Regions from separate parts of the Homo sapiens genome. Here region 2 is linked to region 1. Evidence: fine-mapped expression QTL. Tissue or cell type: whole blood. Region 1 holds a variant in brackets; the other region holds the start of a gene. Each region is shown on its reference strand, or each on the opposite one. Region 1 overlaps CHD7 (chromodomain helicase DNA binding protein 7). Region 2 holds the start of PRSS33 (serine protease 33).

Evidence for each region. PIP is the estimated chance that this variant, and not a neighbour inherited with it, causes the effect. A credible set is the group of variants that fine-mapping cannot tell apart.
Region 2: PRSS33 starts here. The variant in region 1 is the best candidate, but not a certain one, in a credible set for the expression of PRSS33 in whole blood (TOPMed, PIP 0.53).

The regions. Positions count from the first base shown.
Region 1 is chr8:60,731,495-60,735,880 of GRCh38, reverse strand. The region is part of intron 1 of CHD7 (chromodomain helicase DNA binding protein 7); the gene reads right to left. Among named protein-coding and RNA genes, the nearest start is that of CHD7, 55 kb to the right of the region's middle. The variant G/TG (reference allele first, on the strand shown) is at 2,089.
Region 2 is chr16:2,784,821-2,789,206 of GRCh38, reverse strand. PRSS33 (serine protease 33) reads left to right here and starts at 1,647. Exons shown (of 7, transcript NM_152891.3): 1 at 1,647-1,674; 2 at 2,603-2,705; 3 at 3,086-3,118; 4 at 3,246-3,408; 5 at 3,561-3,832; 6 at 4,036-4,205. The coding sequence starts at 2,660.

The DNA.
Region 1 (4,386 bases):
AGCCACATGTGGTTGGTGGCTACCTACTCGACAGTGCCTATAATGAACATTTCCATCACTGCAGAAAATTACATGGAAAGCACTCCTATGTATTTCTTCTTAGAGGTAACATGTTTAAACAAAGACCATATTAAATAGCAGCAATCCTCTTTCATAAAAAATATTTTCTCCTCTTTCAGAGATTAGTATTCTTTTAAAGGTCCATATCTACCCTTTGGGATGAAATATATGTTATTTTTTCCATATATCATATTTTATGTTAACTATACTTACAACCTATGTCTCCTTTCTGTATTATCTCCCAACATATATTCTTATTTCTTCATAAATAATTTTCAGTATGTTAGGAATAATTCTCAACTATACACAATTCAGAAAAAGATTTAGAAAAAAAAGAAGTATGTGAAGTCCTTCTAAGGTCTGTTTGTCCCCAAGCATCATATTAAAAATAAAACCATAAATAGTAATAAGGATTGTACTGGTAACCTCCATTCATATTACTAGGTTACCTCCCATTTTGCTGATATTAACAGAAGAGACACATTTTTAATAAGGAAAACCACTGACATCGTATAGGGCAACGCTACGCCTTATGTTAGCATTCGCTATGACAGTAACACCATCTCCATCCACCTCTTCAACCTAGCCAAACAATGGGAAATAAGCCTAGATCCTTCCTGTCATCATTCATTTAAAAAATATTCAAGGTTAACAGACACTGTGTATACAGTGTTGAACGAAGCAGATGTGGCCCTGTCCTCGTGCAGCTTGCAGTTTGAATAAACGCCCCAGTACATCCCACATATTCAGTGCATTTCCCAACCTGCTAATGCTCTCTCCCAGATATTTATGGGTCTAACTCCTCCTCCCTGTTTACACTAGCTCTGAAGTAATCAGACCTTCATGGTTTAGTGAACCACAAAAAATTAGAAATCTAATCAGTTCTCCTAATTCTGGTCTCAACGCTTTCACACTACTGATTGAATGATCTTATAAAACACAGATTACATCATACCTCTCCCTGATTAAAATCCTTAAAGGACCTCCCATAGCTTTCAGGTTCCAGTCCAAATGCTCCAGCATGCTTGAAGGCACTAATAATCAAATCCTTATTGACCTGTCCATTCTCAACTCCCTTAACTCCCTTCCCTCTATCCCCTGAAGCACTCACAAACACCCCCATTAGGTATATCAAACTACTCAAAGTTTACCAACCATCCATCAGCTATCTCATACCTTCCTCGCCTTCACACCCATGGTCTCTTCCCTGGCCTCCTTATCCCCTCACTGTAGAGGCTGGCCTCTTTTTCATCTCAGTTCCTTTGTTATCACCCATCTTCGGAAGCTTCCTGACCCTCAACCCTCCCTCTTCAGGCTGATTTCAAAGCCCTTGCTAGCAGTACCACCACATCAACATGGGCAGAAGCTACAAAAGTGCCAAGCACGCTACTATTCTTATGTGTTCACCTCCCTCTCTTTCTGGCGACTGGAGCCTTGCCATGTGAAGTGGAATCCTGAGAGACAGGACCCCTGGCACCCCCGGGAGCTGGTAAGAGACGCAGACTCTCAGGCTCACCTCAGACCTCCTGCACCAGAATCTGCCTTTATTAACAAAGGCCCCAAGTGATTCCTGTGCATGTGAAAGTTTGGGAAGTCCTGCCCTCAGACTCTGAGCTCCTCCTACAGGATAGCACACTGACCACTCAGTTAATATAATGGATCAACAACAAATGGCACATGTTACAAAGAATATTATAAAGCAATACAAAGATATGTCACTTAAAGAAAGTAGTCTTGACATTTGTGTCTGACAAATAAACAATACTGACTTCATTCAAAGAATTATGAACAGCCCTTAGTGACAAATTTAATCTGTAACAGTTTACAAGGAGTGGGTATCTAAAGATGGTTTAATTTTAAAGATATGCCCATCTGTTTGCCAATCATTTGTGCAAGTCAAAAAAATGCAGTTAACATTAATATCTAATGCTATGTTACATAACATACTATTTCACAGGTTTCTTGCAGAAATCTTTCAGTTATTTCTACATAACTTTGAAGACTCTGGATATTCTGAGTAGCCTTTAT[G/TG]ATAAAAAAAAAAAGCTGTTCTTTTGTTCCTTCATGCAGTATTGAGGCTAACGTTTCCTTTCAAGGCAACTAATGAAATAGCACTTGGCTAACAGCTTATACTAAGTGCATGCCCACAGCACTAGCTTTTTCCAAAGTGGTCAAAAGGAGTATATTACCCCATACATAAATTATGCCACAAAAGCACAAGGATCATGAAAATTTGTGTCCTTTACACCCTGCAATTCAAAATTCAAATACCTCTCTGAAGCTAACTCCTAAAGGCTAAGCCCACTGAGAAGGTGGCCAGCACCTTGACCCTAACGTGGAGACAGCTGACCTGCTGCCGCAGTGCAGACACTAAGAAAATATGTCCAGCAGGGTCTTCATTCCATGTACACAACATGTCCTAGGAACAGATGGGCACACATTCTAATAGCACCTGAAGTACTCAACATTGTATGGCAAAAGAGAAATGAAGACAAACATGTATCTATATATACCATACCTAGGTGTAGATCACATATGTAGCTACATAAAATATGTGTATCTATCCCATATCTTTTTTTTTTTTTTAAGAGACAGGGTCTCGCTCTGTCACCCAAGCTGGAGTGCAGTGGCACAATCATAGCTCACTGCAGTCTCCCAACTCCTGGGCTCAAGTAATCCTCCCAGTGCGGGCTCCCAAGTAGTTGGGACTATAGTTGTGTACCACCACACCCAGCTAATTTTTTTTTTTTCCTGGGAAACAAAGTCTCACTATGTTGCCCAAACTGGTCTTGAACTCCTAGGCTCAGGGAATCCTCCTGCCTCAGCCTCTTAAAGTGCTGGGGTTACAGGTATGAGCCACTGCACCAGGTCTCATATCTTTTGAATGTTATCCTAATTAATTGTAATATGGTAGAGAAGAAAATCAAATGAAGAGACAGGTCTAGAAATAAGTAAATGAAAACTTTTTAAGTAATTTATTTTGGATAGGAAAAAAATTAAATTTCAGAAATGTATTTCAACCCACCTGGCAAGAATGCTTACAGTGCAGACTTATGGAAGAGTAATGTATATTTTACAAAATTTGCTGATTGCTAGTATGTATCTTGCTTAATATTATAAAATATCCTGGGTTTTGTAAAGCCCAGGGTGGTGTATAAAGGCTAGTAACACCATGTTTATTAGCCTGATTTTAAAAAAATCACCATTAGGAAAGATTTTCCCACTTATTCTAGACTTATTTCAAGCTACTGACTTGACACACAGAAGCTCCAGGTGATGTCAAGCCTACAAAAAGTGAGGGTGGAACAGAAGGAAGGGAAGGAAGGAGCTGCCCTGTGGCCATGCTCTGTCTGGGGACCCCGTGGCAATCACCAGCTCCTATAAGGCTGACACTGAACCTCTGGAGGAGGATGCAGAGGTGAGGCAAGGGCAAGCATGCAGAGGGGCTGAGAAAGCAGCAAACAGCTAGCTGCTCTTGTAAGAAGCGTGCTCTTCGTGTACTGACTGCAGTTGTCACTGATTAACTAACTGATTTGGCAATTTCCTACATTCTTCTACATTTTAAAAAATTTCTGGAAAGCTGAAAAGGGATCTTTTTTCATATTCTGGGGGAGTTTAAAAGTGTACTGAATCCTGCCTGGTTTGAAAGGCAAGGGATAGAAAGGGTGTAAACAGTCTTTTCTGATATACACCACTGACATTCTTTTCCTTAAAGGGAAAAAAACAAAACAAAACCCTGGGCAACATCACAACTGAAAAGAATTTGTCTATTCTCTTTGCTAGAACAGTGCACATGTGATAGGAAGGGAGTCTTATCCATCATGAATAAACCTGAGCACAGGACAGGCAAAGCATCACAGCATACCAATGGCAGGGGCCACACAGGGAGCTCCAGGGCTTTCGAAGACCCATGCCTGTTAAGGCAATGCAAAAAAGAAATACACAGGAATTATAAAAATTCAGATTTCCATTAGGGAAGCAAGCAATACAAACAGGAGTTCAAACTGTAAAGGAAGGTTGAGATCTTTGGAAGAGTATTAGAAAAAGTATTTTGGAAAACTGCACCCAATCTCAAAAAGGTAAACCTACAGGAAGAAAAAAAATGAAGAAAACAAATGTAACTTATTCAGTGACTATGACACTAAATTTTGGTTTCAAATCAAGTTATATTTGACAAAGGAGATGGAATTAAGGCTGAAATACAGAGTTAACAGTTGCATATCCAATATTTCACAGTCATTTCAACTTATAACAAATTTGGGAAACATTTTTTCTATGCAGTAGTCCCCCTTCATCCTGGGGATACGTACCAAGACCTCTAGTGGACAC
Region 2 (4,386 bases), not on the chromosome of region 1:
AGTGAGCCGAGATCACGCCACCGCACTCCAGCCTGGAGACAGAGCAAGACTCTGTCTCAGAAAAAAAAAAAGAAAGCCCCTTCGGCTGTGGTTTTTGTTTATGGCAGCCCAAGCGGACTCCTACAGGGACACAGACCCAGACCCTGATGCTGGAGGGGAGACAAGAGGATGTAAATCAAACCTCCTCAAGTCCCTGTCAAAGGACAACTATGGGCTGGCCTCGGTGGCACATGCCTATAACCCCAGCACTTTGGGAGACTACAGCAAGAGGATCTCTTGAGCCCAGGAGTTCGAGAACAAGTTGGGCATCATTGCAAGACCCCATCTCTGGAAAAAAAAATTGCTAGGTGCTGTGGCATGCACCTGTGGTCCCAACTACTTGGGAAGCTGAGGTGGCAGGATCACTTGAGCCCAGAGGTCAAGGACGCAGGGAGTTGTGATTGTACCACTGCACTCCAGCCTGGGTGACAGAGCAAGACCCTGTCTCTCTCTCCCTTTTTATTTTTTTTTGAGACAGAATCTCACTGCGTCGCCCAGGCTGGAGTGCAGTGGCATAATCTCGGCTCACTGCAACTTCCACCTCCCGGGTTCAAGCAATTCCTGTGCCTCAGCCTCCCGAGTAGCTGAGATTGCAGGCGCCCACCATCAGGCCTGGCTAATTTTTGTATTTTTAGTAGAGACGAGGTTTCACCATGTTGGCCAGGCTCGTCTCAAACCCCTGACCTCAAATGAGCCACCCATCTCGGCTTCCCAAAATGCAGGGATTACAGGCATGAGCCACCATGCTTGGCCAAGACCCTGTCTCTTTAAAAAAAAAAAGAAAGAAAAACAAAAAAAAAAAAAAGGAAAAAAGTACAACTATGGCAGGGCTGCAAAGGAGGCAGGAGGAGGTGGCAGAGCAGAAGGCTGAGGGATAAGAGGAGTTCACTATGCAGAGAGGGACTTGAGAGACTTCTAGGCAGCGAACACTGTGTATGAGCCCAAGAGGGAACTACAGGGCCCTGGACCATCCGGGCCCCGGTCCTCCACGGGCCTCGAGAGAAGGGGAGTTCCTGTCCCCTGACCCCAGCATCTTGCTCTGTCTCGGCCACCCCAAACCAAAGACTGCACTGGTCCCCAAGGTCAAGTCTCCCCCTGCCTCTGGTCAAGTAAGGAGTGCCACCAACTTTGAACCAGTCCCTTTCCACCTCCAGCTGCTCCAGACCCCGGATCTGGAAGGGGGCTGGCCATGCTGGGGTCTCTGGGTGGAGCTGTCTGGCCAGGACTTCCGTCTGAGATGGGATTTCTGGACAGAACAATGGAGCGCAGAAGCTCCAGCAACGTGTGCTCTGCAGGGAGCCCAGGTCAGGTTTGGAGAGGAGTTGCCCCGGATCCTGCAGAGCTTCCCCACCTGACTGCCACCCCTCCCAGCACCTACCCGCACCACTGCTCTCCGCCAGCCCCCACTTCTAGTACCTTGGCGCAAGGCAGGCTTCCTTTGAGAAACCCATTGACCCTTTCCTGCCACCTCTGAAGCTCTGCTCAAAGCATCTTTGTTTGAGGCTGGTCCGGTAAAGCCACAGCCCCGCCCCGGCCCTGTTCATTACTCCTTGGCTGAGCCTCGCGCTCTCCTGGCACTTTAAGCCCCCAGGCCCTCCCTCAACCCCAGTCAGCAGAAGGCGCCAGGCTGTGAGGGTGAGAGCAAGCCAGGGGCTGTGGGGGCTGCAGGGGCAGCCAGTGGGTGAGGATGAGGGTGAGGACGAGGAGGGGTGAAGGATGGGGGAGGGGGTGAGGATGAGGGAAGTGGTGAAGATGAGGGAGGGGAGTGAGGAGGAAGGGGGTGAGGATAGAGGAGGGGGTGAGGATGAGGGAGGGGGTGACGATGGGGGGGTGAAGGATGGAGGAGGGGTGATGAGAGAGGAGTGAGGATGAGGGAGGGGGTGAAGGATGAGGGAGGGGGTGAGGATGAGACAGGGGTGAGGATGAGGGAGGGGGTGAGGATGAGGGAGGGGAGTGAGGAGGAGGGGGCTGAGGATGGAGGAGGGGGTGAGGATAGAGGAGGGGTGAGGATGAGGGAGGGGTGAGGATGAGAGAGGGGTGAGGATGAGAGGTGAGGATGAGGGAGGGGGTGAGGATGAGGGAGGGGAGTGAGGAGGAGCAGGGGTGACGATGGAGGACGGGGTGAGGATAGAGGAGGAGGTGAGGATGAGGGAGGGGGTGAGGATGAGAGAGGGATGAGGATGAGGGAAGGGGTGAGGATAAGGGAGGGGAGTGAGGAGGAGGGGGGTGAGGATGGAGGAGGGAGTGAGGATGAGGGAGGGGGTGAGGATGAGGGAGGGGGTGAGGATGGGGGAGGGGGATGAGGGAGGGAGTGAGGATGACCGAGGGGGGTTAGGCTCCAGGGCTTCTGTCGAGACCAAGGATGCCCAAATATCTGGGTGGTGGGTGCTGCATACCTGGGCCCTGGGCAGAACGAAGGGTATACAGCCTGGGCCACCAGGATAAGTCCAGAACCCACCAGGAGCTGAGGACAGACAGAAGGACCACGGAGGGGGTGACGGGCTGGTGTGAGGATTGGTGCCCCTGGGCCAGGACTCTCCTCTCTTCTCCCTGCTGGCTCCAGACCAGAGTCCAAGCCCTAGGCAGTGCCACCCTTACCCAGCCCAGCCTTGAAGACAGAATGAGAGGGGTTTCCTGTCTCCAGGTCCTGCTCCTTCTGGTGCTGGGTGAGTGGGGACAGGGACTGGGGGTGAGGGCCGCAGACACCTTGGCTCCCAGTTCTCCCATCTCACTGCTCCCTGGGCCGGGCTCCCTGGAGCACTCTTGGGCTTTCTAATCTTGATTCCAAGGGCTCAATCCTCTCTGCCACTGACCTTGACCTCACCACACCTCGATGTGCTTGTCGGTGTCATGCTCATACGCCCTTGCCCCCTGCACCTTCACAGTGCTCTGGGGAGGGTTAAATAAGATAACAGACGGCACGAAAGCCTGGCGCAATGTCAGGGCAACATTGTTTCACCCTCCTTCCTCATCTCTGGCCTCCCCTCCAACTCCGTTATTTGACACCAAATCTATAATCTGGTCCCTTCCCTGCTTCCTCCTCCAGGAGCTGCTGGGACTCAGGGAAGGAAGTCTGCAGGTGAGGAAGCCTCGGAGTCCACCCGAGTCAGCCCCTCCTGGACCTCGGCCCCGTGTCTCCCCACCAACACCTGCCTCCCAGGCCCCAGGTCCTCAGCCAACCCTCACCGCCCCTGGTCCTTTTCTAGCCTGCGGGCAGCCCCGCATGTCCAGTCGGATCGTTGGGGGCCGGGATGGCCGGGACGGAGAGTGGCCGTGGCAGGCGAGCATCCAGCATCGTGGGGCACACGTGTGCGGGGGGTCGCTCATCGCCCCCCAGTGGGTGCTGACAGCGGCGCACTGCTTCCCCAGGTCAGCGCTCACCGAGGGCCCAGGCGGGGTGTGCAAGGAAGGCAAGGCCCGCAGAGGACCGGGCGTGGCCTGGCAGAGGCGTTGGGGTCGAGGCGGGCTGGAGGGGGTCGAGGACCCGGTGCTGGAAGTAGTCCCCCGCTCCTGTCCTGCAGGAGGGCACTGCCAGCTGAGTACCGCGTGCGCCTGGGGGCGCTGCGTCTGGGCTCCACCTCGCCCCGCACGCTCTCGGTGCCCGTGCGACGGGTGCTGCTGCCCCCGGACTACTCCGAGGACGGGGCCCGCGGCGACCTGGCACTGCTGCAGCTGCGTCGCCCGGTGCCCCTGAGCGCTCGCGTCCAACCCGTCTGCCTGCCCGTGCCCGGCGCCCGCCCGCCGCCCGGCACACCATGCCGGGTCACCGGCTGGGGCAGCCTCCGCCCAGGAGGTAAGGCAGGAGGGCGGGGCTCCGAGGCATCCGGGAGCCCCCACGTCCTCCTCCATCTGACTGGAAATCCCAGCCCCTCACTGCCCCAATCCAGGACCCAGCGCGGCTTCTAGGGAACAAAACCTCCTCTCACTCAGAGCTCAGCTTCTCCCACTGGCCCCCGCTCCACGCCTTCCTCTCAGAGGTCCCTCCTCTTCCCCCAGTGCCCCTCCCAGAGTGGCGACCGCTACAAGGAGTAAGGGTGCCGCTGCTGGACTCGCGCACCTGCGACGGCCTCTACCACGTGGGCGCGGACGTGCCCCAGGCTGAGCGCATTGTGCTGCCTGGGAGTCTGTGTGCCGGCTACCCCCAGGGCCACAAGGACGCCTGCCAGGTGTGCACCCAGCCTCCCCAGCCTCCGGAGTCCCCTCCCTGTGCCCAGCACCCTCCCTCCCTGAACTCCAGGACCCAGGACATCCCAACTCAGGCTCAGGATCCTGGCCTCCAACCTAGAGGCACCACGCCAGGGGTCTGGAACCCTGAGAACTGAAGTCCTGGGAGGGCTGGGACTTAGG